Linked DNA regions of Homo sapiens: all the other regions are linked to region 1. Evidence: fine-mapped expression QTL. A gene starts in region 1. Each other region holds a variant in brackets. All regions are shown on one strand. Distances are from middle to middle.

Region 1 (2,761 bases):
AGGTCTTGAAAAATGCTAACAACAACAAAAAATAAGATAAGCAACATAACTTTACAGTTAATTTCTAATTTTTGCAGCCTAAAAAGGGTCTGGGTAAGAGGCTGTGGGCTTTTTTAACTTATGAGACAATTACACTCATATTTAAGTAAATATGATCGTAACCTACTAAAAGTCAACACAGTAACAGCCCCACTTCATGAATTTTCCTAGGATTAAAGGGAGATTTTGTAAAATAAAGGAGAATTTTATTAGGGACCCGGGGGCAAATTTCTCATGTTTAGTTTCACGCAGCAGGAGTCCTCACAAAGACGCTGATACAATTTAAATGCCAACAATTGGTTTTTCACTAACATCCACATAGTCATTACTGGCCTTTACTAGTAATGGTAAGAGACAGCCCAAACCTACTTCGGGCGGACTGTCCCTTCGTCCCCTCTCCAGGTGAAGTTCACCTGCCACTACCGAAGGGCCGTGGAAAAAGGAGGTAAAGAAACGCTTTTAAAATTAAGACGCTTACAGTTGCTGGACTTAGTCCAAGTGCTGTTCAAGCCTAGAAACGAAAGTGGGAAACAACAGAGGTTTAGGCTTGTAATGATGTCAGCCATTTTAGGTACATTATTTATACTGGGAAGGAAGTGCCAAACTCGGTTGTTGTTGTTGTGCCTGTCGCTGCCGGTCCCCAGATCGAACAAGCCAAGTCCTGGCTGCACGCACGCTCCCCGGACTGCACAAACGACCGGGAATTCGGCACAATTAGCCAATCGTTCCCTCTCCAGGCCTCCCAAGCCCCCGACCCCGCGTCAGGCACCGCTTCCAGCACACGCACTTCCTTACAAAGGAGCTGCGGACCCACAGGAAACGGGAGCGCCGGGCTCTCTCGGGGACTTGTCCCCGCGGCGCGAGCCCCGCGCCCGCCACCTCGGGGCGCACTGCCGCTGCAGTCCGCGCAGCCCTCCCCGGCCGGGCCCAGCACCCGCTTCCTCGACCTCCCCGGGCTCGGACCTTGCAGTCCACCGCGACGGCGTCGGGGGGGATGATGAGCGCCTCCTCGCCGCTCTTGGGCTCGTCCTTCTTGGCCTCCTTCTGGGCCAGAGCGGAGTTGAACGTCACCTTCACCATGGCGCGGCCTGGGGCGCCCTCGAAGGGCGGCGGCGGGCTCGGGGCGCGGGCTGCGGGCTCCCGGCTGCGATTGCAGCCTCTACGGCCGGGCTCCGGGAGCGGCTCCGGGCGGCTGAAGAGGTTCGGGAAGCTCCGCGGCGGCAGAGGCGGCTACTGCGGTAGGGATCTCGCAGCCTCCCAGCTCCCGCGCGAGGGCGGAGACTGCTCGCACATCCCCTGGGAGGCGGGGCGGGGGCGGGGGCGGGGCCAGCGGCCGGGGGTGGGGTGCTGCGCGGGACCCTGCCCTCGCCCCGCAGCTGGGCGCCGGATCCCGGCGCGCCTCGGAGAGGGATGGGTGTCCCTCTGGGCCGCCTGGAATTTCCAGTTCTGAATTCGCTCCCAACCAGGTTACCTCCAGGCCGAGTGCTGCAGGTTTGTAGCGAAATCGAGTGAACTTTCCTGAGTTCGCCGGGTACAAGGGACTAACCTTTGGCAGCACCAGACCGCCGCTTCCCTGTACCCTGTCCCCACCGCGAGCCTAAAGGCCATGGAATTTTTGTGCATCCACATCTTCATTTTCTCACTTATTAGGTAACCGACTCAGTGGAGCACAAACATGTTTAAAGCTCTCTGTCCTTGAGATCTGACTTTATCTTTCACGGACCTCACCCAAGGGCGTTTACCTGGCTCAGACCTGCCTGGTCTTCCTTCCCTCTCTCAGGAGGTCAGGGCCTGTTCTGCCTAGTCCCAGACCAATGTGGAGGAAGCTCTTGGCAGATTTGTATTTCAAACATCTCACACTCGTAAAACGAAATGTTCCACTCTTGTGCGTACTTGGAAAAAAACCACATGCACACTTGGCTGATTTGTGACTCAAAGTACTCGATGACGAGTCCCTTTATTTTTCTGCAAAATGAAAAAATAATTAAGGATAACGCAAAATTCTCATGTTTTGAAGACGTTTCATTTACAACTAATGCGAGGTAGAATACTGGCTCCCGTCGTTACTGCGTTCATTACTGTGTCAACAGACGGCCCCCTTGGACAAATGTGTTATCTTGTATCCTTCCACCCCATTCTGTCCTGGTTCATCCAGAGTTGTGGGTGTGCTCTAGAATGTTACAGCTGTGTCAGCTCTGCCTTGGGCCAACCCTGAAAAAAGTGGGTTCAGTCTGAGATCTTTGGGGATTTGGCCCTGCTCAAGGAGGGAGTTGGGTATTTCCATAGAATGTCAGATCATAAGTCCCAGGGAAACAGCCCAAGATCTCCAAATCCTTCTGTTCATGTATTTCAGAAGCATCCTGGGCTGAGATAGAAACCCAGGCCAGACTTTGAGTTTGCTTTGGGTATTCAGAAATTCCTGTCAAAATGAAATCTGCTCAACCAAGAGGAGGATGAGTTAGGTTCCAGTTCTGGTGAGTTTTAACAGTAGCTAACCATACTTGCAGCAACTTATTTAAACTCCTGGGTCGCCCTTGTGCAGGCATCGGCTCTGTGAGGTTGACTCTATGGACTGGACTTTCATAGTATCTAATGTTATCTAATTCCTCAAAGTCAACGACTGCTTCCAGCTCCCTAGTTTAATAGGTTCCCTGAGACATTACAGTTGAAGACTAAGTATTTCTGGAAGCAAGATCTGGAGGATTATAAATAATTATATGTA
Region 2 (2,761 bases), 110 kb after region 1:
GTTTCCAGTTCAGAATATTCCCTTTCGTTTCTGTTTGTGAGAACTATGTTTAAGCTTTTTCCCTTCACCAGTTGTCCTAATGGGCCTGGCATTGCTTCTGAAGTGGAGAGAGTTTAATAAACCCAGGACTCCTGCTTAGTCCCTGGGCATTTTTGCCTGCTCCTCGGCTTGTTATAGGAGAGTGGAATGTCCTTGGAGAGGCCGAGGCACTGGAATTTGAAGTGAAAGAAAGTAAAGAGGGCTCTGTTCATGACTTAAAACGTTATTTCCTTCTTGTCAAGATGCTTACTGGCCACCTGGTAGGGTGACCCACCTTTCTGGTTTGCCTGAGGGGTTGCCTAGGACTTTCAGTGTTAAACCCAAGATAGAAGGCCTTGGGAGGATTGCTCAAGGCTAGGTGTTCAAGACCAGCCTGGGCAAAACTTAGCAACACCTTGTCTCTACAAAAAAAAAAAACAAAAAAAAAACAACAACAAAAAAAAAACAAACAAACACAAGAAAATCCCAAGTGAAGCAGACCACGTAAAGCACACCAATGGGGCTCGCACTGTGTGAACCAGTTCCTTGCTCTTCTCATTCTCTTCAGTTAGTTCTTCATCTCTCTACCCATATCTGCCAGGTGCTCTTTCTTTTCTTTTCTTTTCTTTTTTTTTTTTTGAGATGGAGTCTCACTCTGTCACCCAGGCTGGAGTGCAGTGGCATGGTCTCAGCTCACTGCAACATCTGCCTCCCGGGTTCAAGCAATTCTCCTGCCTCAGCCTCCTGAGTAGCTGGGATTACAGGCGCCTGGTACCACGCCCGACTAATTTTTTGTATTTTTAGTAGACATGGGGTTTCACTGTGTTGGCCAGGCTGGTCTTGAACTCCTGACTTCGTGATCCACCTGCCTCGGCCTCCCAAATCGCTGGGATTACAGGCATGAGCCACGGTGCCTAGCCCACGTGCTGTTTCTTATGCCTCCTAACAAAATCCATGATGTTTGAAAATGATTACACATTAGGGATTTACTACATTTCAAAAGTAACAAAGGAAAACTTTTTTTTTTTTAATGGGTGTGTGTGTGTGTGTTTGTGAGTGATGGAATCTCGCTCTGTCACCCAGGCTGGAGTAAAGTGGTGTGATCTTGGCTCACTGCAACCTCTGCCTCTCAGGTTCAAGTGATTCTCGTGTCTCAGCCTCCCGAGTAGCTGGGATTACAGGTGCCCACCACTATGCCTGGCTAATTTTTTGTACTTTTGGTAGAGATGGGGTTTCATCATGTTGGCCAGGCTGGCCTTGAACTCCTGACCTCTTGTGATCCACCCACCTCGGCCTCCCAAAATGCTGGGATTACAGGCCTGAGCATTCGCGCCTGGCCCAACTTCTTCATTTGAGTTTACAAATCACACAAACATGAACTTGACAATGGTGC[A/G]CCTAAACCACTATACTATAATAACTTGTCATTGTTTGTAGGCGTATGTAGTGAAGGTTGACTATTCCGTGTAAGGTCCAGTGGTAAGGAGAGGAGCTGAGTGGACAAGCAGATAAATGCCACCACACTTGCCAAGTGAGTGCTGTAGGAGGCCCAAGAACAGAGAGATTACTGTGGGCTGGGACAACTGGGAGAGGCTTAATACAGGCAGTGGGATGTGGAGAAGACTGCAGAGGAATCAGAAGAAAGGTGGGCTTCAGTGAGAAGAGACACTATTCCAAGCAGAGGAAACAGCTGCCTGCAGGACCAGGAATGCCTGAATAGAAGCTGCAGTGGCTGGTTTCCCTGAAGCTAAATTTTCAAATGCGTGATCAGTTTGAAGAGGGTGTGTGTAGGACAATTTCTGTATTTCTGTATTGTTGTTTCTGCATTTATTACAGGCAAAAATAAACACAACCTTACCAAACGGGAGCATTTTTTTCTCCTCCTGGCTCTTTGCCACCTTTTGTAGTGTTAGGCCTGGTCTCCCTAAAGAATTATCCGACTGTTTCAGTAAATATTTGGGGTGCAAAGAACTGGAGTATTGTCAAAACTTTTTGTGCCAACCCCGCCCTTCCTTCCATTGAGTCCAGTGCAGGGTGGGGCAGCCCTTGTAGTTCGAGTGAGGAAGCCATCCTTCAGCCCCATGTAAACAAGCGCTGGCATGCTCAGAGCACCAGCCCTGGTACTCATGTCCTCAGCAAATGCGATGCACGTTTCTACGTGAAATGCAATTTTCAATGACTACTGGCTTCCTTACACTTCACATCTCAATAATAGGCCTTCAAAGACCTTATCATAGATTGGACATAGCAAAATATCATAGCACGATTTCACCTAAATAGCCTTTTCCTTACATGAATTCTGCTGTTTCTTAGAGAAAGGAACCTCTTTCAATCCAGTCAAAGACAGGGTGAAGATGTGCCTTGTAAACTAGATACCCACTGTTACAAATGGCACCAAGGAAGAGAGAGTAAAAATAGAAAGTGCCTCTAGGGAGGTTTGAGAGAAGGGACACCAGGAAGGTTCGTATAATTCCACACCAGCTTTTTACCTGAAAATTCCTTCCACATAAAGATGAAGCTTTCAGATACTCTTGGAAGATTATGTCTTGCCTTACACACCAAGAGTCTACATCAATATTTTCTCCTTGGTGAGGAATAGAGGGGCCTCTGGTGCTTAAAGAGAAGAGACCGCAGATATGAGAAAACACTGCCAAAAAAGGAGACTCAGGATCTGAAAACCAAATCTCTTATATCCAAATTTTGCTAAAACTCACCATAGCTTTTATTTGAAATTGTGTGCATCATG
Region 3 (2,761 bases), 89 kb after region 1:
GTATTACAGGCATGAGCCACTGCACCTGGCCTCAATTTTTCTGTAAATATGAAACTATTCTAAAAAAATTAAGTCTATTAACTTCAGAAAATAAAGAAATACTATAACAGGGCTAGTTTTAAATGTGATACATTTTAAATGTCTCTAAAACCTTGGGGCTTTTAAATCAAAGAAAAATATGCAATGTAATTGTGCTGCTCATAAAATAATTGTGGGATTATAAATACCTTAATTTATAATGCAGGACAGATGAATGGTTTAGTAATGGGAAGCATGTTCAAAGCTGTATGGTAAGAGTCACCTTCTTTCAGTCCTTTTAGTGCATCACTGTAAAATGTGAGGCCTCACCTGGAAATAACCAGCTCAGAGGTCCTTTAGGAATGTGAGGCCTCTGTTAAATGGAGCACTATGGTGCGCCTGCTGGGGGCTTAATTTTGTTTTTGTTTTGTTTTGTTTTGTTTTGTTTGTTTTGCTTTTTTGAGACCAAGTTTCACTCTTGTTGCCCAGGCTGGAGTGCAGTGGCATGATCTCAGCTCACTGCAACTTCTGCCTCCCGGGTTCACGCAGTTCTCCAGCCTCAGCCTCCCAAGTAGCTGGGATAACAGGCACTCACCACCACACCCGGCTAATTTTTGTATTTTTAGTAGAGATTGGGTTTCCCATCTTTTAGTAGAGGTGGGAGTTCGAGATGGGTTCTTGAACTCCTGATCTCAGGTGATCCACCCACCTTGGCCTCCCAAAGTGCTGAGATTACAGGCGTGAGCCACTGTGCCTGGCCATGGGGCTTAGTTCTTACAAGCCCACCTTTGACCCCACCAGTCCTGGTCTTGGACTCTGGTAGCGTGGCTGCCTACATGTAGACATTTCTGTAGCGTGAAGTGTCCATCTGCCTAGACTTCCAAGCCTCACCTGAGGCAACCACAATACTGAACAACTGCAATGACTGCAGCCACCCTTTTTAGCTATTGTGTTTTGCCTGCTAGGGTGGACTTCCTCCTGTATCTGGAGTACATTGAATTAGTAGTACCCAGCAGATATGGGACTGGGGATTTGAAAAGGAGAAACAGTTTCATCATGAACAACACGGCCTTCCTGCCAGGGTCACGTCTGTGTCTAGATACTGTTGCTGTACTTCCTGTATTCTCAGGGGTGGGCCTACTTCC[A/G]AGACAGATGCAATTCAGTACACTTACTGACGTCACTTTTCTTAAACTTTTTGCATTTTTTTCCTAATTATGATAGTGGTAAGAATTCCTTCCAGAAAATTTGAAAGTCACAGAAATGTAAAAAGAAGCACAGAAAAAAAAAATTATCCCAAATCCTGTATTACCCAGAGAGAACCACTAATGTCATTTTAGTTGTGTTATTTTTAGTTCCATATTTCATTCCTTAAACTCGCACAGTTTGGATTTTGCCTCCTCCGTTTTCCTAAAACTGCTCTCCCATAGGTTAAAAAATCTGTTGGCGAAAACTTCTCTGGAGTTCTCTGGATTCTATTTTGTCCTCCTTCTCAAGGACTTTATGCCTGCAATTATTCACCTTTTACTGCACTGTTAGTCTCTCTCTTTATGGAATGATTTCCCACAGTTTGCAAACATGCCTTAATATTGCTCATCCCTCTTGAAACCTCCTTAACCCCATATTTCCTCTGTGCTTTTCTTCATGGTAAAACATCTCAAAAGAGACATATGTATTTGTTCTCTCTACTTTCTCACCTCCAGTTCCCTTCAATGTACTCCAGTCGGGCTTGTCTTCATCGCTCTAATAAATGGCTCTTATTAAGGTGTCCTCCATTTTGCCAAATCTAATGGTCATTTCTCGGTCCTCATCTTACTTCACTTTGAGTAGCATTTGACATAGTTCACTCCACTCCTCTTCCAGAAATAATCTTGGCCTCTGTTGACACCATGCTCTCCTGGTTTCCCACCTATTTCATTCTTCCTTTGCGGTCTTCTTTGCTGGTCTTACTTTCTGTGTCTGACTTTTTTTTTTTTTTTTTTTTTTTAGACAGGGTCTCGCTTTGTTGCCCAGGCCAGAGTGCAGTGGCACAATCTCGGCTCACTGCAACCTCTGCCTCCTGGGTTCAAGCGATTCTCCTGCCCCAGCTTCCTGAGTAGTTAGGATTACAGGCGCACACCACCATGCCTGGCTAATTTTTGTATTTTTAGTAGAGATGGGGTTTCGCCATGTTGGCCAGGCTGGTCTTGAACTCCTTCAAGTGATCTGCCCACCTCGGCCTCCCAAAGTGCTGGGATTACAGGTGAAAGCCACCATACCCAGCCTCTATGTCTGACTTTTAAATGTTGGTTGCTTCCAGGTCTTCTCATTTCTACAATCTCTACTTGGTAATCTCATCAATCCCATTATTTAAACATCATCTACATGTTTTTTTTTTTTTTTTTTTAGAGACAAGATCTTGCTCTGTTGCTCAGGCTGGAGCGCAGTGGTACAATCATGGCTCACTGCAGGCTTGAATTTCTGGGCTCAAGCAATCCTCCCACCTCAGCCTCCCAAGTAGCTAGGACTACAGATGTGCACCACCATAGCTGCTAACTTTTTAACCTCTACCTGCAGGGGTCACGCAATTCTCCTGCCTCAGCCTCCTGAGTAGCTGGGATTATAGGCACCCACCACCACACCTGACTACTTTTTTTGTGTTTTTAGTAGAGACGGAGTTTCACCGTGTTGACCAGGCTGGTCTCAAACTCCTGACCTCAGGTTATCCACCCACCTCGGCCTCCCAAAGTGCTGGGATTACAGGTGT

What was found.
Region 2: its variant is fine-mapped to the expression of ITM2B in lung (TOPMed, PIP 0.92).
Region 3: its variant is fine-mapped to the expression of ITM2B in whole blood (TOPMed, PIP 0.98).

The regions. Positions count from the first base shown.
Region 1 is chr13:48,231,719-48,234,479 of GRCh38, reverse strand. It overlaps ITM2B (integral membrane protein 2B), which reads right to left and starts at 1,274. Exons shown (of 6, transcript NM_021999.5): 1 at 1,003-1,274. The coding sequence starts at 1,119. RefSeq lists an enhancer at 66-763 and silencers at 819-1,028, 1,039-1,398.
Region 2 is chr13:48,123,308-48,126,068 of GRCh38, reverse strand. The region is part of intron 5 of LOC105370198 (a long non-coding RNA gene); the gene reads left to right. Among named protein-coding and RNA genes, the nearest start is that of MED4, 30 kb to the right of the region's middle. The variant A/G (reference allele first, on the strand shown) is at 1,412.
Region 3 is chr13:48,142,955-48,145,715 of GRCh38, reverse strand. The region is part of intron 4 of LOC105370198 (a long non-coding RNA gene); the gene reads left to right. Among named protein-coding and RNA genes, the nearest start is that of MED4, 49 kb to the right of the region's middle. The variant A/G (reference allele first, on the strand shown) is at 1,164.